Linked DNA regions of Homo sapiens. The protein of the gene in region 4 interacts with the protein of the main gene of each other region in a pairwise test. Each region holds a gene or a part of one and is shown on either strand. Other genes may lie near its edges. The genes, in order: ZNF398, DOCK1, DOCK4 and ELMO1.

The links.
Region 1: the proteins of ELMO1 (region 4) and ZNF398 interact in binary tests that used the Homo sapiens proteins (3 or more experiments, as listed by UniProt).
Region 2: the proteins of ELMO1 (region 4) and DOCK1 interact in binary tests that used the Homo sapiens proteins (3 or more experiments, as listed by UniProt).
Region 3: the proteins of ELMO1 (region 4) and DOCK4 interact in a two-hybrid assay, tested with the Homo sapiens proteins (one study listed by BioGRID).

Annotation. Positions count from the first base shown.
Region 1 is NC_000007.14:149,164,429-149,171,464, reverse strand, and holds part of ZNF398 (zinc finger protein 398), read right to left. Parts: intron 5,308-7,036; coding exon 5,181-5,307; intron 4,649-5,180; coding exon 4,535-4,648; intron 1-4,534. UniProt on the Homo sapiens protein: Functions as a transcriptional activator.
Region 2 is NC_000010.11:127,447,397-127,453,021, forward strand, and holds the end of DOCK1 (dedicator of cytokinesis protein 1), read left to right. Parts: coding exon 1-149; intron 150-3,935; coding exon 3,936-4,031; 3' UTR 4,032-5,120; downstream 5,121-5,625. UniProt on the Homo sapiens protein: Involved in cytoskeletal rearrangements required for phagocytosis of apoptotic cells and cell motility. Along with DOCK1, mediates CRK/CRKL regulation of epithelial and endothelial cell spreading and migration on type IV collagen.
Region 3 is NC_000007.14:112,203,377-112,210,245, forward strand, and holds the start of DOCK4 (dedicator of cytokinesis protein 4), read right to left. Parts: upstream 3,024-6,869; 5' UTR 2,763-3,023; coding exon 2,726-2,762; intron 2,693-2,725; exon of another isoform or gene 2,127-2,692; coding exon of another isoform or gene 1,997-2,126; intron 1-1,996. Other genes in the region: ZNF277 (zinc finger protein 277), read left to right, coding at 3,341-3,431. UniProt on the Homo sapiens protein: Functions as a guanine nucleotide exchange factor (GEF) that promotes the exchange of GDP to GTP, converting inactive GDP-bound small GTPases into their active GTP-bound form. Involved in regulation of adherens junction between cells.
Region 4 is NC_000007.14:36,852,406-36,857,900, reverse strand, and holds the end of ELMO1 (engulfment and cell motility protein 1), read left to right. Parts: intron 1-2,149; coding exon 2,150-2,350; 3' UTR 2,351-4,995; downstream 4,996-5,495. UniProt on the Homo sapiens protein: Involved in cytoskeletal rearrangements required for phagocytosis of apoptotic cells and cell motility. Acts in association with DOCK1 and CRK. Was initially proposed to be required in complex with DOCK1 to activate Rac Rho small GTPases.

The DNA.
Region 1 (7,036 bases), about 110 Mb from region 4:
CCCAGGAGGCAGAAGTTGCAGTGAGCGGAGACTGCGCCACTGCAATCCAGCCTGGGCGACAGGGCAAGACTTCATTTCAAAAAAATAAGTAAAAAAATTTAAAAATAGGAAAAAGTTATAGAAAAAGGGTATAAAGAAAAAATATTTTTGTATATATGTACAATATGTTTTACACTAAGTGTTATTACAAAAGTCAGAAAGTTATAAAATAATAAAAGTATATTACTATATTATAAAGTAGTATTATAAGTATATTACTGTATTATAAAGTAATACAGTAAGCTAAGGTTAATTTATGGTTAAAGAAAAAATTTCTTGGCCAGGCGCGGTGGCTCATGCCTATAATCCCAGCACTTCGGGAGGCCAAGGTAGGTGGATCATGAGGTCAGCAGATCGAGACCATCCTGGTTAACATGGTGAAACCCCATCTCTTCTAAAAAAAAAAAAAAAAAAATTAGCCGGGCGTGGTGGCACGTGCCTGCAGTCCCAGCTACTCAGGAGGCTGAGGCAGGAGAATCACTTGAACCCAGGAGGCTCAAAAAAAAAAAAGAAAAAATGTTTCTATAAATTTAGTGTGGCCTAAGTATACAGTGTTTATAAAGTCTACAGCCTAGTAATGTCCTAGGCCTTCACATTCACTCACTGACTCAGTGAGAACAACTTCCAGTCCTGCAAGCTCCATTCATGGCAAGTGCCCTATAGAGATGTACCATTTTGTATTTTTTTTTTTGAGATGGAGTCTCGCTCTGTTGCCCAGGCTGGAGTGCAGTGGTGTAATCTCGGCTCACTGCAACCTCCGCATCCTGGGTTCAAGCAATTCTCCTGCCTTGGCCTCCCGAGTAGCTGGGACTACAGGCGCCCACCACCATGGCTGGCTAATTTTTTGGATTTTTAGTAGAGACAGGGTTTCACCGTGTCAGCCAGAATGGTCTCTATCTCCTGACCTCATGATCCACCCGCCTTGGCCTCAAAGTGCTGGGATTATAGGCATGAGCCACTGTGCCCAGCTCATTTTGTATCTTTTACACCAGATTTTTGCTGTACCTTTCCTATCTTTACATGTGTTTACAAACACAATTACCATTGTGTTACAATGGCCTACAGTATTCAGGACAATAATATGCTGTACAAGTTTGTAGCCTAGAAGCAATAGGCTATACTATATAGCCTAGGTACATAGAAAGCTACATCATCTAGTTTGTGTGAGTTCACGCTGTGATGTCTGCACAATGACAAAATCAACTAATGATGCATTTCTCAGAAGATATCCCCATTGTTCAGCAGCGCATGATTGTGTTTGTCAAACAGTGTGGTATATGCAGAACACGTGCTTTCCTTCTATGAGTCTGGAATTTGGGTAAGTGCTAGACAGAGGGTATGCATGTGATTAGCCCCCAATAAAAACCTTGGGCACTGAGTCTCTAATGAGCTTTTCTGGTTGTTACAACTCATTACTGGAACAATTAAGCATATCCTATAAGACTCCACTGGGAGAGGACTCTGGGAAGCCTGTCCCTGGTTTCCTGCAGACTTTGTCCCAGGTACCTTTTCCCTTTGCTGATATTACTTTGTATCATTCTAACAAATCTTGCTGTGAGTACAACCATATGGGAATCCTGTGAGTCCTCCTAGCAGATCACGAAATCTGGGAGTGGTCTTTGGGCCCTCCAACAGAGCCAGGAGCATATTTTTTTTTAAGAAAACAAGTACTGAGGTTGGGTGTGGTGGCTCAGGCCTGTAACCCTAGCACCTTGGAAGGCCGAAGCAGGTGAATCACTTGAGTTCACGAGTTCAAAACCAGCCCGGGCAACATGGCAAACCCCCATCTCCACAGAAAATACAAAAATTAGCCAGGCATGGTGGTGTGTGCCTGTAGTCCCAGCTACTTGGGAGGCTGCGATGGGAGGATGGCTTGGGCCCAGGAGGCACAGGCTGCACTGATCTCAGATCATGGCACTGCACTCTGATCATGGCACTGCACTCTAGCCTGGGCAATAGAGCCAGACCTTGTCTTAAAAACAAACAAACAAACGAAAGAAATTGTGAAGCTGACAATTTGATCAACCAACAGAAAATAACAGGCCAGGCACGGTGGCTCATGCCTGTAATCCCAGCAATTTAGGAGGCCGAGGTGGGTGGGTCACCTGAGGTCAGGAGTTCAAGACCGGCCTGGCCAACATGGCAAAACCCCATCGTTACTAAAAATACAAAAATTAGCTGGGCATGGTGGCACATGCCTATAGTCCCAGCTACTCAGGGGGTTGAGGCATGAGCATCTTGAAAACCCATGGTAAAAACAAACTGACAAGATAACAGCAAAATGAAACTTTGATACGTTATCACAAAACCTAATTACTTGTTATCTTTTTCACCCATCCCATAAAATACAATGATATATTCATTTGTACTTGCTGAGGTCTATGACAGATAACTAATAATGTAGACCAAAGAAATATACCCAATAAGAAATCTTTCTGTAGTCAAGTCACTCATCTTTATTGGTGGTATTATTTTAGCCTCATTACTTATATCTGTGATATAAAGATTAGTAAAATGCAACGTGTTACACTGACTAAATGCAATCACCTACACATTCTTAAAAAATAATATGGCCGGGCGTGGTGGCTCACTCCTGTAATCCCAGCACTTTGGGAAGCCAAGGCGGGTGGATCACTTGAAGTCAGGAGTTTAAGACCAGCCTGGCCAACATGGTGAAACCCCATCTCTACTAAAAACACAAAAATTAGCCGGGCGTGGAATCCCAGCTACTCAGGAGGCTGAGGCTGGAGAATCACTTGAGCCTGGAAGGCGGAGGTTGCAGTGAGCCAGGATCACGCCACTGCACTCTAGCCTGGGCGACAGAGTGAGACTCCATCTCAAAATAATAATAATAATAATAAATGTGAGGCAGATGTGTACATTGCTTAAAACTCAATTAAGACTTGAAATTTCATTATATGTAAAATTTACCTGAAAAGAAAAAAACAAATATTGAACTCTAGGTTAATAATATTCATGCTGAACTATTTACAGGAAAATGCATTGATGTCTTCACTGATTTTGAAATACATCAAAAATAGGATAGATGGCTGGGTGCGGTGGCTCATGCCTGTAATCCCAGCACTTTGGTAGGCCAAGGCAGGCAGATCACTTGAGGTCAGGAGTTCGAGACCAGTCTGGCCAACATGCTGAAACCCTGTCTCTACTAAAAATACAAAAATTAGCCAGGCGTGGTGGTGGGCACCTGTAATCCCAGCTACTCAGGAGGCTGAGCCAGAGAATCACTTTAATCCAGGAGGTGGAGGTTGCAGTGAGCCAAGATCGCACCACTGCATTCCAGCCTGGGCGACAGAGTGAGACTCCATCTCCAAAATAAATAAATAAATAATAGACGGATGGCTGGATGGAGTGATGCAGTGATAGATATATGCATGATAAGGAAGGATGGTATAATGTTAGTGGCAGAATTTAGGCGCTGGATATCCAGGTGTTCACTATAAAAATATTTTAACTTTTCTGATTGAAAATTTTCATAATAAAATGTTAGAAAAAAATAAATGTGGCGGTGGCTCAGGCCTGTAATCCCAGCACTTTGGGAGGCCGAGGCGGGTGGATCACGAGGTCAGGAGATCAAGACCATCCTTGCTAACATGGTGAAACCCCATCTCTACTAAAAAATAGAAAAAATTATCCGGACGTGGTGGCGGGCGCCTGTAGTCCCAGCTACTTGGGAACCTGAGGCAGGAGAGTGGCGTGAACCCAGGAGACGGAGCTTGCAGTGAGTCGAGATCGCATGAGCAAGACTCCGTCTCAAAAAAAAAAAAAAAAAAGAAAAGAAAAAGAAAAAAATAACTATATGGGATAGCGGGTGGGTTGTAAGAGAAGTTCATATAATAGAGATGCCCGGAGGATCAACTTTCTGTGTGCTTCTATCCATCAAAGAACAAAAAAGTGTATGAGAATTTTCTGACAGCAAGGTGAGGCATGAGAGAAACAATAAAACTGGACTTTGGTTGGCAGTCTTTCCCACACAATGTTAAGCAGCTGCCAACCAAAAAGTTAGGAAGAGTTCATGATAGCCAGCTTCCCAGACCTGAGAAAATCCATGTTGCCCAGGTGGATGTCATCAGTGTCTACTGGTTCCATGCATCTTAGAGGGACCATGCAGACTCCTAGTCCCTTCAGCACTTATGAAGGGCCATGCTTATATTTGCTCAAGCCAATTTAGTCCAGATGAGCATGACTGCCTCCTTCATCATGTAAGGACATGTTTATTTTATTAAACAGCTAGGTGTCAGTACTTCTGTCAGGAAATGCAACTTGTAACTGTTAGGTGTGTAGTACTGATAGGTGAAGACACTGGACAAGGTGACCTCTAAGCTCCCTTTTATATTTAAATGCCTGATGACACATTCAAAATCTAGTTGCTTTAGCAATGAATGGCTCTAGAAGCCCCTAAGCCCTGCTTAGCTCTGAGCCACCATGTCTGACCAGGAAAGGGAGACAAGAAGTAGGAATCTCTTCTCCCACTTACCTTCACTGGGGTCTGTGGGAATCTCACTTTCCTCTGGCCCTGCCTGGTCCTCTGTATTATGTTCCCCTTCTGGTTGAATCTGAGATAAGACATCAGGTTGATTTATAGCATAATCTAGGAGAGGAAAAAGGAAGAGAGAGTATTACAAAGAGATAAATGAGGATGACAACTAATTGCCATCAAGGCTGAGCTGAAGCTTTGTGGTCACAGTGCCAGGGAATTTCTTTTAGATTTCATATCACTTCTTCCCATCTATCCATCTTCAGCTGTGGATATCTATTCAGGAAAGCAGGCAGTGGAGATGTAATGTGTGGGGAAAGCACATGTGCTAGGTTAGCACTGCTTTCAGAGTGACAGTGTGCCTCAAGGGGGAGAAGTCAAGCTCCTTTCCAAGTGAAGGATACCCATGGAAACCACCAGCTGTCACACCCATAACCCTGAACTTCATTCTCTGTCCTACAATTTGGTAAAAAGAGAGATTATGATTCCTAGTTAGCAAGCATTAATTGGTCATATTTTGGCTTGAAACCAGAATTTGAAGTGTGTGAAGACAGAGTGAGAATGAGGTCACTGGAGGAAAAGGGACTGTTCTGAGCCCTCTTGGAGCTGCTGTCACTTCATTCAAAAGGTGTCAACTCAGCCTCACCCATGGAGATGAGAGACTCGTAGTTGCCCTTCATGATATTCTTGTAAAGTTCCTTTTGCCATTCTTCTAATTTTTCCCACTCTGGAGTGGAAAAGTAGATGGAGACATCATCAAATGCCACAGGCACCTAAAATTACAATCACATGGGTTAGTCCCTTCCATTATAATTCAGTCATTCAATAAATCTCTTTCCAATTAGTTCCTTTTATTTTTTTTACATTTTCAAAGGGTGGTCAATAAATATTCTAAATATCTCTGAAATGGTTTCTTTTAATGCTTCACTTGTCATTAGAAAATCCTAAAATCCTAGTACTCATGCAATACAGCACGAGTCCCTTAAATAAAGCTGGTACCTTTTCTTGAGGCACATTCGAGTATTTTGGTAAGCAGTAATAAAATATCTAAATACCATGTATGTTAAAACTTCAAGCTTTATTGAGTCTTTGATTTCACCTCTTTTAAAATGCCTTTTCTCTAAGAACATCACTCTCCAGGAGATCCAAATTCCTCTATTTGTTTTCTTTGTGTTGTTTCTAGTTCCTCTAGTCTTTTGCCAAGTACAGAGTTCCCTTTGATGCTGTTCATCGTGCACATGAGGAGGAAAGGATAATACCATGGCTGATGACTGAGAGCAAACAGGATTGATTTTGGAGGCATGTTAGGAACCAAAATTAAACTTCAAAATTCATTATGTCTTCTGTGTGTATCCTTTAGTCTTTTCTGAAGCTTTGTACATTCTTCAAATGGAACATTTTGTCTATTTAAAACCCAATTTTCTGTTTCCATTTCTTCTCTACCTGCCTCCAAGATTTACACCTTGTCCTGCCATCTCTTCAATTGTTTTCACGGCAAGATTTCCTGTTTTTCTGGGCAACTGCAGCTCACTGCAATTTCTCTTTAGCTTGACTGTACATTTCCCTGAGATACATTCATGAAGCATATGCTTTTCTTCTAACTGCTGTGTCTGTTCTTTTTCCAATGTCTTTTTGACTTCTAGTTAGACTTTCTCAGCTTGATTTCTTATATTTCAGCATTCCTGTTTTAATGTCTCCATCGTTTCTTTCAGCATTCGGTTCGAACTCTGCAAGTGAGGTAACTTGGATCTGAAAACTACTGATTTACTATTCCAGGTCAAAATTTTCGTTTTTTTCTTCCTCTGCATTTTCTTTCTTTCTTTTCTTTTTTTTTTTTAGAGACAGAGTCTCGCTGTACACCCAGGCTGGAGTGCAGTGGCGCGATCTCGTCTCACTGCAACCTCTGCCTCCCGAGTTCAAGCAATTCTCCTGCCTCAGCCTCCCAAGTAGCCAGGATTACGGGCACCCGCCACCACACACCGCTAATTCTTGTATTTTTAGTAGAAATGGGGTTTCACCACGTTGGTCAGGCTGGTCTCGAGTTCCTGACCTCGTGATCCACCTGCCTCAGCCTCCCAAAGTGCTGGGATTACAGGTGTGAGCCACCGTGCCCGGCCTCCCACAATTTCTTTTCACACTGATGCTTTTCACATTGCTTGCAGACATCATGATCCACTTTCATTTTCTATCTGCTAACTTGTTTTCAAATTCTAGCTTTTCATCCTGTAATGCCAGAAGTCTTTTACAACCTTCTTCCTTGGCATCTGGTGCCTTACATATTAATATATGATCTTTTTTTACTAAGGGCACTTTGTGGTGTTCAATAGCTGGTCTCAGAATTTCATTGTCTGACAGTAAACCATCCAGTTCACTTTGAATCTTTTTCCTTTCCCTTTCTAGCTCACTCTTGCTGCCTCTAGTTTCATGGCTGTTATTTCTAGTATGCTTGAAAGTTTCGTTCTTTGACTTTAGTGCTCAGTGTATTTCTTTCTTTCTCTTTTT
Region 2 (5,625 bases), on a different chromosome or scaffold from region 4:
TGGAGCTGAACGGCATGACGGGGGCGGACGTGGCCGATGTCCCACCCCCTCTGCCTCTCAAAGGCAGCGTGGCAGATTACGGGAATTTGATGGAAAACCAGGACTTGCTGGGCTCGCCAACACCTCCACCTCCCCCTCCACACCAGAGGGTAAGTCGGCAATCTGAAACACAGGCTTTCATTGCTTCGCCTCCACAAAGTAGGACGAGTCCCTCATTCCAGATACTAGCAGGTTTACTTCGGGCTAGTGAGCACATGAGGAAAACCATGTATGATGGGCCCGGGTTTGATTTTGCAAAAAGATATCGAAGCAGTAAGGACTCCAGTGGGTAAGATCTGTGGCTCTGCGTCATTATCAATAACTGCATCAAAAAGCACATTTTGATATCATGCCTCAGAACGAGGAAGAGGATAGACATTCCAAGGTTGTCATCGGTTATCATCACCATGGAGATCATTCCACTGGAGATGCAATTCTAATGACATTTTGATTTTTGAGAAGTAGCTTTTCTATCAAGAGGTCTGACTTTTTAAAGAGGTTGGCCAATATCGCCCTGTATGGCAGGCACCTGTTGTACACCTGCTTGGCCCTGGAGAAGCTTGTCTCCAAACATCCCTCCAGGCAGCCTCACCTGGTGCTGGGAGCTCCTGGGTGGTGACAGGCACTCACCTTACGGAGACTGCAGAGGACAGCCAGGTTTGGCTCCTGGGCACAGTCATCCTCACTGTGCCCCCACCCCTGGGCACCCTCCCCAGTGCTAGTTCGGGGGTGCTGACCTGGCTTCCTCCAGCAGCACTGGCCTTTGTAAGCCTAAGCAACCTGCTGGAACCCCTCTTCAGCGTGAGTCCCTGAAGCTGGTACCCCCCAGCAGCTGTTTTAGTCATTCATGCCACCCAAAGTGCCTTGTGCCAAACAGCCCCTGGGCCTGCCTGCCCGTACAAATATTAGTCAAAGTCATGAAAAGCCATTTAAACAAGCACCTCAGTTACCAGTTGACAGTTCTAGAAACATTCTTTTGAGATCCACCCCGTTCCTCTCCTGGTTCTCAAGGATGCTGTCAGGCGTCACTCATCCCTGCGGGTCCCAGCCCCATCCTCATGTCGGGCCCAGGCATGTGTGGAGGGCAGCATGAGTGGGATGGAGGCGGGCGAGCGATTGACTCAGCCACGGCGGGAACTTCTGCTTCTAGGCTCAGGCCTCCCCAGGCCATGTTATTCACAGCCTTTGACAATTAAATCAGTGGTGTCTGAAGGGTAAAATATCCCTCTTCATATGTGGACAGCTGGCCGTATTTTTTTTGCTATCCAGCCTTAGTGAAGTAATTATATGGCCGCAAAACTCCTGTAGAACATTGAAAACATGAGATTGTTGGGTGGCTCTGTTTTTTTCATAATGGTGAGACATGGTTTTTTTTTTTATTTTTCTTTAATAAACAATATAAATCCCACGTGCCATTTCTTTTTCTTTTTTTTTAATGGAGACTCGTTGACGGAGTGTTCCACAAGGTCATTACATCCCTTATGAGAGGAGTGGAAGAGAGAGGGTGTTTGTGTACAGCATACGTATTTCATCATTCCCTTTGTATCAGAAAACTAAACAAGCAGTCATCTTTAATATCAAAGAGGCAGATTGCTCTTCTGAGACCCAAGTGCCATTTAAACAGGCTCCCTCTCCCTAGAGACGCCTCGATGGGGAACCGGTCCTGGAGGAGGCACCAGGTTCCCCTGTGAAGAGGGCTTTCTGGCAGGCTGGAATGGTTTGTTGCACCACAGAAATGGAAGCCGGACCTTCCCCGGCCATTTCTAACTACTTGTGAGAGTAAAAGGAGATTCGGGGGGGTCTAACAAGAATATTGGGTTGCTTGGAGTATTGTTTCCCTAACAGCTTCGTTAATTGGTCACATTCTCTTCTCTCTATTTTATTGCAAAGGCAGGAATGTTCCCCCTAGTCTCCCTACACTAGTAAACTGAAAATTCTAAACTTAGAATTACAGCCAATTCCTCTTCTTGTTACAAATCAACTCCGGGGTAACATTTTATTGTCTCAATTTCTTGGATACACCATTGTGGGTTACTGATGCCACATACAGTTGATTAAGTAAGGGATAACATGGATTAGCTCTCTCTCAATTGATAAAGGGCGTGTGAATTCAATTAGATTAATGACCCAGGTGTCTTTGGTCTTTGTTTCTTGTTTAATTTACTTGCAGCCTGAGTGCATGCTCAGGTGACACGCTGGTGGTTAGTATGTCATCATTAGGCAGAAGCGGTTGCATTTCCTGGGGTGCCTCCCTTTGCACAGGCCCTGAGAGCTGTTCTAGGATAATGATCATCCATCTGCCATGATGGGGGTGTGATCAATATCCTCCTGTCACTCTCATTGATCAGCCTCAGGCTTGTAGGCAACTCTGTCTTTAGTTGTTGCCACTAAGCTGTCATTTCTTTCCAAATGGCTCTTCCTGTCAGTAATCTGAGCTTACTGAGTTTATCACCATTAATCATTTTGCTTAATGGTGATAAACTTTTGACATGCTCATACTTGGCATAGAGGTCATTTGCAGCGCTGTGTTGGTATCAGGCTGTGTTAGTGTGGTCCTTACCTGCTCCTCATTGGCCTATCAGTGAGTGTGGCTTTCACATGTAAACAAACAGTTTCATCAGACCTCAAAATAGATGTCTCTTTTAACGGTTCTAACCAACCTTAAAAAGACTTAATTGTTGTTTTACCTTCCTTAATATAAGGTCATACACTCATAGGACATCTTTATATCAGCTTTACTTTTCCACATTTATTCTCCTCTCTGTGTTAAGCATTAGGTCATTTTTGTATTTACTAGTCTGTGAATCAGGAGGAAATCTGGGCGATGAGTGAGAGACTACTGCGTCACTGTCTATCCTTGAAAACCTCTTTTCTCACATTCAGCTAAATGCAAACCCACACTGAGAGGCTGATAAAAATCCACTCTTACCCTTAAGTTAGACGATAGTGTTCTGTGATTTCATTCTGGTTCTTCTGCCTGTGGCATGCTCCCACTTACCCTGGTCTGTTCACTTCTTCATTCATTTGTTTACTTACCTGTTCATTTCTTCATTTATCCACTGACTCGTTTATTCACTCATTCATTTATTCACTCATTCATCCATTTTTCTATTCGATTGACCCATATTTCTAGAGAGTCTCCTGCACATCAGGTGTGTGTGATGGGCATGAGGGTCCCAAAAGCAATAGGGTGCAGCTGCCCTCAGTCATAACACTCCAGCCAGGTCCATCAGCAAGGGGTTTGCTATTATCTTCACATTGGAAATTAATGTTCTTTTTTGGAATCTAAAGTAATATATGCCCATGAGCTGAAGCCAGCCAGCCAGCCACCTGTTTCTGTGAATAGTTTTCTTGGAACACAGCCACACCCCTTTCTGTACACACTGTCAATGACCGCTTTTCGGCCACACCAGTGGCATTGAGTGGCTGCAACAGAGACCGTGTGGCCTGCCAAAAAGCTGGAAATATGTACTGTCTAGCCCTTTCCAGGAGAAGCTTGCTAACCTTTGCCCGAAGCTCAGAAAGCAAAAGAAGGTCTCTCATCTCACCCCTGGAGAGTGCCTCTAAGGACTTATTTATCCCTTAGACAATAGATGGATAACTTGGTCGATAGCATCTAGATTTAAAAAGGCCACGCAAAGGGCAATGGTACCTCTCAGGGGCTGTGCAGACGGTGGGAGAGTGCTCAGAGGCGTCAGAAAGGCCCAGGCCCATAGCAGCCCAGTCTTGAGCCTAGTAGACCTGCCAGCCCCAAGTCGGACAGGATGGAGCCCAACTCATGTGGGGAGGATGGTTCCGGCTGAGTGGCTGTGCCAGGTCAGACCCCACCTGGAGACGGTGTCTTTTCTGTCAGGACATCAGTTATGTGACATCTTCCCCATCCTCATGTTTTTTAGCATCTGCCACCTCCACTGCCCAGCAAAACTCCGCCTCCTCCCCCTCCAAAGACAACTCGCAAGCAGGCATCGGTGGACTCCGGGATCGTGCAGTGACGTCGCAAGCCTCTCTGGAAAGAGTGTGCTGCCCCTCCCCATCTCCATGCCCTCTCCTTCTGTGTCCCCTGAGTCTGCTGTTTACCTCATTGGGCCTGTGATGTTAACATTTCGTGCGACTGCTTTTTCTTCAAAGGAGTTCAGTTCTCACCATGGAGTGAGTGGCCTTTAGCGTCATGGAGCAAGGTGGGTCTGGGAGGTAGATATGGGTCCGGGATGTGCTATCGTAGTTATCAGAGTTGGGGGCCTCTGAGTGTGTCTGGCTCTGAGAGAGTCTGAGTCTTGCCCAAACATTCTTTCTTTTTGTGCCAAATGACTTGCATTTGCAAAGAGCTCAATTGCTCTGAGCTCAGCCAAGTAGGAGAGGCTAGGCCATCACTCTTAGGAAGCTGTGTAGTGATGATGTATAAGAATCCTCCTCACTGTCATGGGATGTTGTATCCAGCCCCTCCTTGTTCCAGCCGGTGGTGTGACTTCGTTGGTTGAGGTGTGTCTCCAACCTACATCAGACCATGAAGTTCAACCCCTCCAGGGAAGCTCCTGATTTCCCCTGCATAATTGAAAATAGGATATTTCTCAGCTATTGAACAGTTACTAATTTATGGGGTGGAAACAGCATTAAGAATACTGAATCAAATGGAAAAACAAATGAATACAGGAAGATAAGTGTTCGTTCTTTTCTGAAAAAGAGTATGTGTACCACAAGAGCTGGTTTTAATTGGGTGAATTGTTTTTGTCCTCATTCTGTACAGAAATTTGTATATATGATGGTTCTTAGAACTTGTTTTAATTTTTGTGGTCCTTCCGTTTATTATAATAGGCGTCCACCAATGATTATCCATATGTGTTCTTAATTTTTAACTGCTGGAAGTGTTAAAACACACACACACACACACACACATTTTTTTTTTGAGAACTCCAAAGTCCTGAAAATTTTGGTGGACAATGATTTTTAAAAAACTAACTTTGTATAACCTAATATTTGTATTCTCTCATCTATATTTTTTTATTCACTATAATCATGATACTCTTCTAATAGACTTAAAAGTTAATCATTGACAACGAAAAATAAAATGTTATTTTAAAAGACTCACAGTGTCTGACCAATTATGTTTTCATCCTTGATTGTAAAATACAGACGCTGCTGTTTCTGTTCTGCTATGTTAAAGTGCTTGGTGACACACATTTATATATGCACCTCTTCCTCCAACATTGTTTTTAATCCTCTCTGTTAATTGTGTCTGATCTGGAGCCCAGATGGGAAGTGCCCGTGTCCCGTGCATGGCTGCATGTCCTGATAGACAGGAGCTAAGCAGAGACCAGCTGAGTGCTTCCCCATCACCAAAGCCAGAGGGCTGTGGGGCTGCAGATCATGTGGGCCTCTTTTCAGCTGCTAATTTAAGAAAGGGCTTTGGTTAATGGGTGTGTGATTTAGCTGTAGAGGTCTGGACATGGAGAGCTTTCTCCAGGGCCTATCTGGCTGGATCTGGGGTGGCAAGAAACAAGGAAGGCAGGGGGTTCTCTTCTCAATGGACGGGGCTCTCACCTCTGCTCCTGCCAGACGTGTGGAAGCCATAAGGATGTGCCCTCTGCC
Region 3 (6,869 bases), about 75 Mb from region 4:
TGCCTATACATCAGTTACGAAAAAGAATTTCCATCTCCGATACATTTAATTACAGATATAAAATTTAACTAATTTTACCCATGTTTACAGTATGCTGCTTAAAATTTAATCATAAGTATATAAAAGCATAATTATCTCATACATAAATGAGGGTATATAAAAAGTACCTTTGCAGAAATATATAATTTATACTAAAACGTCACATATTCTGTTACAAAGACTGATTTATTTCAAAGAATGAAGAAACTAAATTACCACTACACTTGGTAACAAAGATCTGTGCCCATAAGATCTTTTCTTTAACATCTGTAAGAACTACATGAGAAAAACACAAACATTAACCAAGGTTAAAAGAAAAAACAAACAACTTGCAATATAAGCAGCTATAAACAGTGCCCTCCATGGTGAAAAATAAAGTCCACACATAAGTATCCTAGCAAAAATTTCACTACACACACACACACACACACACACACACACACACACACACGCCTAACAGATGGATTCTAAAAAACAGCTAAGCATTCCACAATCCAAATGCTCAAAAATTAATAATAAAGGTTAATTAACATTCTGGCACATGTGATATTGAGAACAACAGCAGTAATTTGGGGCAAAAGACCCTCTCTCTGCTCTCGTCCTTCATCTCATTCAACCTCTTTTTCTCAATTGTGAGCACACCCTTCTGCCTCCCCTACTCTGCAATCAAATCACAACCACCCAAAACCGAGGTGTCTGCTGCAGCCCAAAACATTTGACTGATAATATCCGGTTTGCCATTCCAGGAAATCCCAGAGTGGTTTTTAAGCCTCTGCCCACCGCTTGTAAAGAAAGGCAAGAGAGGAACTAATCGATACCAGCACCCCAGCTGTGACCTGGCACATGAAGAAATCAAGAAAATAAATCCCATCCATAATCTGTATAATTTAACACTTGGAAGAAAGCAACATCTGGGATCGACTCCAAGCAGGACAGTTTTGCCTGGATGGATCTGAGCTTCCTGCACTGAGTGTTAAAGCCGCTTAGGAGGCGATGCCCTCGGGTCCCTCACCAGTCCAGCAAAGGGACTATCTTTTTCCCTAGCAAGGGTTAATCTACCTCCCAAAAAAGAGAAGAGTGAGGAGAACGAAAATAACAACTACTAACATCTACTCCTTGCCAGTAAAGAGGCTGGCAAAGACTCCTCTGACACTTTGAAGGAGGGAAAGCTGGAAACCTTTCCCAAAGGTGGGTTCAGGTCAAACTATTGTCTTGGTAATTAGTCACAATCCAGAATGGAAGCTAACGTGAAATGTGGGAATGATTTTGTTGAATCCTACAGTCCTTTCAATGGACCCCAAAGTCCTATCCCCAGGCAAAGTTGGGAAAAAAAAAAACAAAAATCCCCTCGGACTACGACTCCCTGGGAAGGCTTTCCAGATGTTTTAAATTGCAGGAAAATGAATTTAGAACATAAGCAGATATCTACACATCACCTAAATCACTAGACCTGTCCTCAATTTTAAAACACACACACACACACACACACACACAAAGTACACCAGTCGGCAGAACAGGGCATTATAGGAAATAAAGAGTGTTAGTAAAATCCATAATGCTTTCTGTTAGACCTTCTGGGAGGTTATAATTGCATTTGGCCGGCTGCAGCCTTGTCGGAGAGCCTGGCTTCTTAATAGTCTCAACCCTAAAAGGAGTAACTGTCAAGGGGCGACCCAGCTGAAATCAAACAACAAAAACGGGAACTGTAACCCGCCTGAAATGGGAGGAGGAAAAGGAAGGGAGACTCCTGTATTCATCAGTCAACATTAATGTCCTTTGTTGTTCACCTTTACACAGAACAGCGAGAGCTATCCTGTTCCTTTTTCTCCGAACGCCAGTGTCAGGGTATGCTTTCCTAAAAGCTATCTCCCTGCCCCCAAGAACCAGGCTTTCCGATCCCCCTCCCCATTTATCACTCAGCAGCCCTGTACCGCCACACCGCCCCCACTGCGCTCACCCGGGGTCGAGAGGGTGGCCAGAAGTAAAAACACTGCTGAAATACCCGTTCTTCTCCAAAGACCAAAGAACCGAGCGGCGCAGATGTTGAAATTTACCAATGCCCCCGCCCCGCAACATACACACCCCATAAATCCGGGATCGCAGAGAGGGAGGAGGGTCAGAGAGGGCTCAGCTTGTCAGAGCGGCTCTCTCCAGGACCCTGCCACATTCCACACTCCGGGAATGTCGATCCGAGCCAGAGGGAAGGGTTTGCGCCTCCCTACTGTTTTGGGGGTGTTCTCTCTGCCCGAGTGTTGTTGTCTCCCTCTCCACCCAGAGGAACCGTTGCAGCTCCCTGTCGCTTTGGGGAAGAAGGGTAAGGAAGGAGAGAAACCCCATTCGCCTCCTCTTCCAACTTGACACACACACACACACACACACACACGCCCAGTCGCCACTCCAAACTCCGCAGGCAGAGCCCGAAGCTAGCGGGCCGGCCGCGCGCTCCCCCAAGCTGTCCCGGCGCTTCGGGAACCAGTGCGGGGCGCGCCGAGCAGGCGGTGCGGGGCGAGAGCCTGGTGCGCAGCCCTCTGCCTGGAGCTGGCTCGGCAAAGCCCCGTACCAGCTGCGCGATGCCAGGATTAGGCATTTTCAACCGGGCGGAGCGAGAGGGGCGCGGGGGCAAGGACGAGAAATGCGCACTCGCTCGGGCCAGAGCAGAATAAAAGTTCGCCCCGCGGAGACTCACCCACGCCGTATTTCTCGTGCTCCGTAGGTATCCACATGGCTAAAGGGGCTCCGGGGTCTTCAGGCTTTGTAATCCCCGCGCCCCTTCTCCGGCTCACAACAATGCACAGTCCCCGAGCAGCGCTGCAGTGCCGGAGCCCAGCGGCTTCGCGCGGGCTGCGGGCGCTGGGCAGGATCTGCGCTGGAGGCTCCCGAGCCCAGCGTTGACACTGCGCCGCCCGCAGCTCTCCCGGCGGCGGCTGCTCACAGTCCTCCGACGCGCTCCCGGGTACCCGGCGGCGCAGTCATTGTTCTGATTCACTGAACTAAGCGAACACGCCGGGGCACTCTCCGGCGCACCCCCGCCCGCCAGCGCCTAGTCCAGCCCTCCCGTCCCAGGGCCCCGCAGCACGCTGGGAATTGTAGTTCTTGGCCTCCCCATCCCGGAAGTGGGCGCGGCAAATGTGGTTCGGGGCGGGGATTCAGTTTTACTGATTGCGTCCTATTGGTCCAGAGCGCGGCGTAGGTGTGGAGAAAACATTACGTCGACGGGGAGTTCGCCTCCAGTAGCGTTTCTACTGGTGCCACCCCGCCTCCGACCCGCCCTGCGGCCCTCCCTTTTCTTTTCTGCCGGGTAATGGCTGCTTCCAAGACCCAGGGGGCTGTCGCCCGAATGCAGGAAGACCGTGATGGGAGCTGCAGCACAGTCGGGGGTGTAGGTTATGGGGGTGAGTACGGTGCCCCGGAGGCGCGGCTGATGTGTCTTCCTTTCTCTATGACCGGGTGTGCAACGGACCTCTGGTCTGACCCTAGGAGCCCTTCAGCTCTGGGGCCACCTGGGTTCGACTGGGCCCCACGGGTGGTGGCCCAGCGGGATGGGTTGGAGCCGGTGGCGGCTACTTGGTTGGGGCTGCCCGGGGATGGCGGAGAAAATGCCATGGGATGGCGGAGAAAATGCCATGGAATGGCCTTCCCCTCCGCCGGGGAAGCTCCCTGAGCGTTTGTCTTCTGGTTTGGAGCTCCCAGCTTTGAGCTAGCTGCTGAGTGGGTTTGGTTCAGATCTGGTTCGCGCGCGTGTGTTTATAATTTTGGGATTAGCAGCTCTTTCTCCTCACCAGTACACTGCCTTGGTTTGCTTGGTTTGACCTCGCAGGTGTGTTTTATTTAGCTTCCGGAGTATTTCCAGTCGCAGACTGGTGGTCACTGCTCTCCACTCTACAGATTTGCCCAGTTTGTGGCTGAGGTGACCTCTGAAGGGAAAGTGTGTGTATCTCACAACCTCCCTGTAGATGGTTAACTGCTCTGGGTGTTCTTCAGATTTGTATGTGGAGCCTGAGAGATCTTCCCAGTCTCTGGGTCCTTAGAGAAAGAAAAGGAAAGTGATAGATAATTTGCACTCGTGGCTTCAAAGAACATTTGAAAAGAGTTTTGAAAACCATCACAACTTTGGCTGTACCTGACTTTCAGGTTGTCCTCTGATCCACTGTAGGAATAAAAAACCAAATTTTGAAAGCTGCAGGTGGATTGTGTTTAGGACTCTTTTACCTTTAGTCTATCCCTCCCCCATTCCCCCCACCCCATTTTTGTCTTGATGTGTAATTTAGCACAAGTTGTCTTTTTCTGATGAACATGGTTTGGGGCTTAAATATAGTTCTCAGACTGTTGCGACTTTGTTTTTCGATTTATTTGTTTTTGCTTTCACAGTTAAATTGATATCATCTTAAGTATTTACCTCAGCGGCACAGAGTTGAAGTGCAGTTTTTTCCCACTTCCCAACAGTGGAACTCCCTACTCTGAAATTATTTTAGTACCTCTACCAAACAAATCTTTGGTAGTCTCCTGAGTTAAATATTGAATTTAACACCCTAATGGTTTATTTTTGGGTTGGTTATATATTGGGCTATCTGATGGTAACAGACTATTACGGTTTCCTAGATTTTCAAAGTTCCAGAGGGCTACCAGTTTAAGATCTAAACTGGTGAATTTATCTCACAGTCTAACTTATTTTAAAAAATGGCCGGGCACGGTGGCTCACCCCTGTAATACCAGCACTTTGGGAGGCCGAGGCGAGTGGATCACAAGGTCAGGAGTTCGAGACCAGCCTGGCCAATATGGTGAAACCCCGTCTCTACTAAAAATACAAAAATTAGCCGGGCGTGGTGGCGGATGCCTGTAGTCCCAGCTACTCGGGAGGCCGAGGCAGGAGAATCCCTTGAGCCCGGGAGGCGGAGGTTGTGGTGAGCCATGATCCACCACTGCACTCCAGCCTGGGAGGCAGAGCAAGACTCTGTATCAAAAACAAAACAAAAAAAAAGGATATGCCTTTCAAAAATGTAAAATATTTAAAAATATTTATTTTTAAATTTTACAAGTTTAAAAGTTTTTAAAAGCACTTCAAACCATTCAGAAGTGTATGAAGTAAAAAAAATGAAAATTCCCTCACCTCACAGCACCACTCCCCGAGTATTAAGTGATAAGAGTTTGGTACATATTCTTTCCAACATATTCTTCTTCTTCTTTTTTTTTTTTTAATCCTACAATCCGTATTCTGTTAAACCACCATATTCTTATATGACACACGTCTGTATGATTTGATTTTTTTTTTTTTTTTTTTTTTTTGAGACGGAGTCTCGCTTTGTCAACCAGGCTGGAGTGCAGTGGCGCGATCTCGGCTCACTGCAAGCTCCGCCTCCCAGGTTCACGCCATTCTCCTGCCTCAGCCTCCCGAGTAACTGGGACTACAGGCGCCAGCCAACAAGCCCGGCTAGTTTTTTGTATTTTTAGTAGAGACGGGGTTTCACCGTGTTAGCCAGGAGGTCTCGATCTGCTGACCTCGTGATCCGCCCGTCTCGGCCTCCCAAAGTGCTGGGATTACAGGCGTAAGCCACCGCGCCCGGCCTATGATTTGATTTTTATAATAAAAAGGGATAAATCTATATAAACTGAAAGATCTGCAACCTTCTTTTTTCTTTCAGCAGTCTATCATAGAAACCCTTCCACGTCAGTACATTTGTTTCCTTTTTTTTTAAGGACTGTGCCCATCATATTCCAAAATATGATTGTGCCATTCTTTATCCATTCCCTTATAAATGAACATATAGTGTGACTTTAGTTTTTCAGTAATGTTGCAATGAACAACTTTATGTACATATATTCTTGCCCACTGGTTGTATATTTTGGGAGAAAATTGCTGGATCAAAGGTTATGCAAGTTTAAAATTTTGACAGATGCCAGACTTTCCTCTTAAAATATATTCAGCATACATTGCCACCTGTAGTATATGAGTGTTCTTTCCCCCATATTGTCACAAACTTTGAGGAAATAATCCAGGACCAATGTTTCAATGACTAGTAGATTGAATTAAGTAACTGATAGAAAGCTTAGTTTTTGATTCCAGTTTGTTTTCAATAAAAGTGTTGAGTAGTAGTGAATTTGCGGTATCTATAACATAAAAAAATTTCTCACCCTCGGTGAGAAATACCCAGTATTCTCATTGACTTGTAGCAGTCAACAGGAGAAATTAATGGTTGATTTTTTATGTCATTTTTATAAGATAAAGTTGTCATTAAAAATTCTGCTTAATAACCTATGTATCATTCTGTTACTTTTTCCAAAATCTTTTCAAAGCCAACAAGGTGTGATATAAATTTTAGGTGTAAATATTTATATTAAAAGTATATTTTTTGTTAGGCAGTCATTTAGGTTATCAAGTATGTCTTTCCCTGTAAAAATCATACACCTTTTTGGATGAGTTCATGTCCTTTGTAGGGACATGGATGAAGCTGAAAACCATCATTGTGAGCAAACTATCGCAAGGACAGAAAACCAAACACCACATGTTCTCACTTATAGGTGGAAATTGAACAATGAGAACACTTGGACACAGGGCAGGGAACATCACATACCCGGGCCTGTCGTGGGGTTGGGGGATGGGGAAGGGATAGCATTAGGAGAAATACCTAATGTAAATGACGAGTTAATGGGTGCAGCAAACCAATATGGCACATGTATACATATGCAACAAACCTCCAAGTTGTGCACATGTACCCTGGAACTTAAAGTATAATAAAAATAAAATTTTTAAAAAACATACACCTTTTTGACTTCTTGAAAACTGCTTCTTTTAAGAGATTTTCTTCTTGCTCTGATTAAAATGTTAGTCTGTG
Region 4 (5,495 bases):
CTGGTATGATGGAGTGTTCCAGGTTTATCTTTATGTTTCCTGCCTTTTCTCTGTGAAGCCTTGATTACTTGTAGTGGGAAATGATATTTAGTGACCAGAATCTAAGCATGAGTTGTGTTTATGGTCATTGCACACCACGATGCAGTGGTTCTTGGTTGGTCATTATTTTTTAGCCCTTTTTGGGGACAGAGCTAGGTGGTTTTCTTTTAAGATAAACTAATGAATTGATACTGATAGTTCCAACTCAAATTCAGTATCAGTACTACAGGGTTTTTATTTATTGGTCGATGTACTTTCACATAAAATTTTCTGTGCCTGTTGTTTCTAAAAAGAAACGTGCTGCAGAAGTGTTCCTGTGGGTTAAACTAATCTATACTAGGAAGCTAGCCAGGCCTGGGAAGGCTGTGTGAAAAGAACAGTAATCCCCAGGACTTGGGGATTTACCATGAAACAGCATGAAAGCTGGAAGGGGCCTTTGAGAATGTAGAGTTCAGTGGCACCCGTACCTGCGTGTTCGTTAGAGTTTTCTAGGAAGCAAAGTCTCCTCACCCTAGATCTACATGATCAGGATCTCCAAGGTAGGAGCTAGGTGTCTACTTCTGTCAAGGTTATTTATGAAGAAATTGATGGTTAGACATGTTCAGAATCAGATCATGAGGACACTAATTCTTCCGGAAATCCCTTAACACTAAATTGATGTTTCGATGGGTTAAATGCTTTGGCTGAGATCACATAGCCAAGGTAGAACCAAAGCCCTCCAAATCAATGCTGCCCTCCTGAAACACAGATCTCATAATACACCCATTGTGCATCTCCTCAGCTTAAAAAGGAGGACCGCTGATGTGCATCACGGAAGATTTCCATCACATCATGGTGACTGGAGATTTATATAGTGCTTGCAGTATACTTTGGTTACTTTTACGTTGAGATCTGCTACCATGGAATACAGTCCAGATAACCACAGTGCCAAAGTAGGTTAAAGAGGGTCTGGAATTGCCGCTTGAACTAGTGAGGCAGAAAAGTTGGGAATCTGGAGTGCATGGTAGAAGGAAGACCACTTCAACAGAAGAGGAGAACAATTGCTGTTATAGAATCCTATATAGGACTACTAGAAACCTAAACTCCAGTGCATGAGTGGAGCCCAGCATCCAGAATGCCAAGCAGCTTTCTGAGATGCTGGCATCAGGGGTGCCTCTTTCACCAGGTGTCATGGTTCTCTGTCCATGTCAGTACAGAACTCCAGCCTCTGGGAGGGGAAGCTAAGAAGAGAAAAGCAGGTCCTCAGACAAGGCACAGTTCTTCCTTCTCCCTCACAGAGATCATAGTCTCCTGGAGAGACAAAAGGCTATGAAAGGAGAAGAATCAGACTCTTAGTTGGGTACTGTGAAGGGCTTTCCAAAACAGATAATATCCCCAAGTATGAGGCCCCAGAGACCTGGTGAAAAGAAACCTTAGGAACTAGAGACAAAGGCTAAAGAGGTCCCCAGACAGGCAGCCAACCCTCCTCCCATTAAGATTGCCCAATAATTTTAACCATTTTGGCTGCCAGACACTGGGCAGCATAAGCCTATTTCCTAGCCCTTTAGCTGAGAAACACCAAGGTGGGACTGCCATTGGCCATTGGCTCCAGGGTGGGACAGGGCTGTCATTGTGAATGCTAGGATCAGACAGGACAGGCCGAGATGAGCTACTAGACTAGGAGCCATGACTGGAGTCAGCAAAGAAACCTGCTTCACCTGATGTTGAGTCCAGGGCTGTTCGGTAGATTCCACCAGTACCTAAAAGTCATAGACTCCCACCTAGGTGTTACATTGCAAGTCATGGAGAACTCCAATCCTCAGCTGTTACAGAGAAGCATTCTTTGCAAAGAAGAGCACAGGCACTGGAGTCAGATTGCCTGGGTTCAAATCCCACCCGGTCTACATAATACTGAGTCACTTCTCTGTACCTCAGTTCCTTCACCTATAAAACAGAGATAACAGAAGTATCGACTTTATATTGAGATGTCGCCAAATATGAAATGACGAAGTAGGCAGAGCCCTTAGCGCACAGCCTACTGAGGGATGAGTATTCACTGTTAGCTATTTTTACTATTAATACTTCTGTAATTGCCACCAGTAATGATCGCTGTTGCCTCCCTTCCTGCCAGTACTGTATCTGGACGGATGGACTGAATGCGCTACTCGGGAAGGACATGATGAGCGACCTGACGCGGAATGACCTGGACACCCTGCTCAGCATGGAAATCAAGCTCCGCCTCCTGGACCTGGAAAACATCCAGATCCCTGACGCACCTCCGCCGATTCCCAAGGAGCCCAGCAACTATGACTTCGTCTATGACTGTAACTGAAGTGGCCGGGCCCAGACATGCCCCTTCCAAAACTGGAACACCTAGCTAACAGGAGAGAGGAATGAAAACACACCCACGCCTTGGAACCGTCCTTTGGTAAAGGGAAGCTGTGGGTCCACATTCCCTTCAGCATCACCTCTAGCCCTGGCAACTTTCAGCCCCTAGCTGGCATCTTGCTCACCGCCCTGATTCTGTTCCTCGGCTCCACTGCTTCAGGTCACTTCCCATGGCTGCAGTCCACTGGTGGGACAAGAGCAAAGCCCACTGCCAGTAAGAAGGCCAAAGGGCCCTTCCATCCTAGCCCTCTGCAGGCATGCCCTTCCTTCCCTTGGGCAGGAAAGCCAGCAGCCCCAGACTGCCCAAAAACTTGCCCACCAGACCAAGGGCAGTGCCCCAAGGCCCCTGTCTGGAGGAAATGGCCTAGCTATTTGATGAGAAGACCAAACCCCACATCCTCCTTTCCCCTCTCTCTAGAATCATCTCGCACCACCAGTTACACTTGAATTAAGATCTGCGCTCAAATCTCCTCCCACCTCTCTCCCTGCTTTTGCCTTGCTCTGTTCCTCTTTGGTCCCAAGAGCAGCAGCCGCAGCCTCCTCGTGATCCTCCCTAGCATAAATTTCCCAAACAGTCCACAGGTCCCATGCCCACTTTGCGTCTGCACTGTGATCGTGACAAATCTTCCCTCCTCACCAGCTAGTCTGGGGTTTCCTCTCCCTGCCCCAGGCCAGAACTGCCTTCTTCATTTCCACCCACGCTCCCAGCCTCTTAGCTGAAAGCACAAATGGTGAAATCAGTAGTCTCGCTCCATCTCTAATAGACTAAACCTAAATGCCTCTAGGACGGACTGTTGCTATCCAAGCGTTTGGTGTTACCTTCTCCTGGGAGGTCCTGCTGCAACTCAAGTTCCACAGGATGGTCAAGCTGTCAGACATCCAAGTTTACATCATTGTAATTATTACTGGTATTTACAATTTGCAAGAGTTTTGGGTTAGTTTTTTTTTTTTTTTTTGCTTTGTTTTTGTACAAAAGAGTCTAACATTTTTTGCCAAACAGATATATATTTAATGAAAAGAAGAGATACATAAATGTGTGAATTTCCAGTTTTTTTTTAATTATTTTAATCCCAAACATCTTCCTGAAAATAACATTCCCTTAAACATGCTGTGGAATAAAATGGATTGTGATGATTTGGGGAGCTGGTGTTTTGATTTAGTAACTTAGGTTCTTGCTACTCAGTCATCAGCATCACCTGGGAGCTTGTTGGAGATGCCAGCTCTTCAGCTCCACCCTAGACCTGCTGAATTGGGTGATGTTTATGTACATTGGTTTGAAAAACACTGCTGTGGGAAACCCTCCACCATTGCTAGGTCACCATAGGCTCTGAGCATCAGTGGAGAATGTTACTTCTAAGAAGACCATCTCGACTCACTGAGAAAATCAGACCCACTGTATGAAAATATCTATTCCTTTTACATTGCTGTCTCTTGACCATGACTTTCTCTTTTTTCTTTCTTACCATGATATAATTTATAGAATGGGTCTAATTAAAGACATCACAACTTTGAGGGAGCACATTTAGCAATGAAAAGAATGCATACCCACAGACCTGAAATAAGCCAGAACTAAATAAATCTAACCGTGGGTTAATAAATTATAGGTCAGAGCCCAGCGAAGGATGTTTCTTAAGTCATTTGCACTGGAGGCATTATCAGGATTGTAAACTCCCAGCACTGGGAGGGATGTCAGAAGGGTCCAAGCATGCAGTATTAAGCGTGGCACAGCACCAGCCACTCTGGCCTCACAGCACAAGCTGTGGAAGCATCCAGGTCATTTCTCTTTACCGTCATCAGGATGTGCAATTACAGATTGACCTGGGTTGAGATGATATGGTCCAGAGCACTGCATGCATTGCAGGAAAAAAGTCCTTTGCATTCACAGGGGTTCCTTCTTCCCATCAGAGCACTCACACCTGTGTCAAGCTGTTAATTCCTTGATCATTAAGCTTCGATGTTATTAACATGTACTTGCTATCAGGAGCAGTTATTAATCTACCCATCATCATGATAAAACAGTAAGTGTTAGGTCAAAGGCAGCAAACAAAGTCATATTATTTTTTTCTTATGGGTTACAAGATCCAATCCATGAAAAAGGGAACTTTCTGGACCAGGATCTCTGAGGTCCTGAGACACTGGGTTTAAGAAATGTATCTGTCCTGTGACCTTGGTTGGGGAGATCCAGCCCCTCTCTCTTCTGGCACTCCAGCTTTGGTGCATTTAATAGAAAGAAACCTTTTCAGGACTATGAAAGGCAGCATTCTCCAGCTCCTCCCTAGACCCTCCTTTGGACCTGTGAGATCTGAAGAGTATGCCATCTGTTTCCATTCATTTTGTGACCATGTGGGGAAGGATTGTTGCCCATATTTGGCCACCTCACCTTCTCTCTCCAGGCTGCCCAAGGCTTTTTTTCCCATGCAATGAGCCTACCACCTCCAACTCATCTCCTGTTGCCTGCAGTTTCCTAAGCCTGGGCAACTCAGCCAAATCCAAGGCAGAAGTAAAGTAGGAAGACTGATGTTGTCGTGAAGTCCAAGTTGCATTCTGCTATTCATATTACTCAAAATAAAACTGATTACTTAATTTGAATCTGCTGATGTTTAAATTCCTCTCTTATTCTTGTTCAGAACACATAAGAGGAAGGAGAATTAACTGGCCTCTGAAACCTCTGTGACAACATTTAAGGGCAGGGAAAGCTAATAGTAATTGCAAAAGAAAAAGTGCAAGGCTGAATGTTTCTTGAGTCTATTTGCAAGTCCGTTCTAAGCCATCCTTCAGTTATCACCTACAGCATGTCCTGTCCACCTGCTTTTACAATGAACAAAGCAATGGGTGTCCCCAATGACATGCATACCAGTCATCCATTTTGTTTTAGTTATGAAAATACAATTAACACAATCCTTTCATTTTAAGGGGAAATGAAATATCCATTCAATAATCAAAAGTGTGCTTAGAGATAGGCCCTAGGAACTCAACAAGAACAAAATTTGTAAAATTGAGATTTGTAAAAATGAGAACAAAATTCATCAAATCAGGGAAATGACAAGCAACTTAGTCAAATATAAAACCGAAAAGTTGCAGCACAGTGT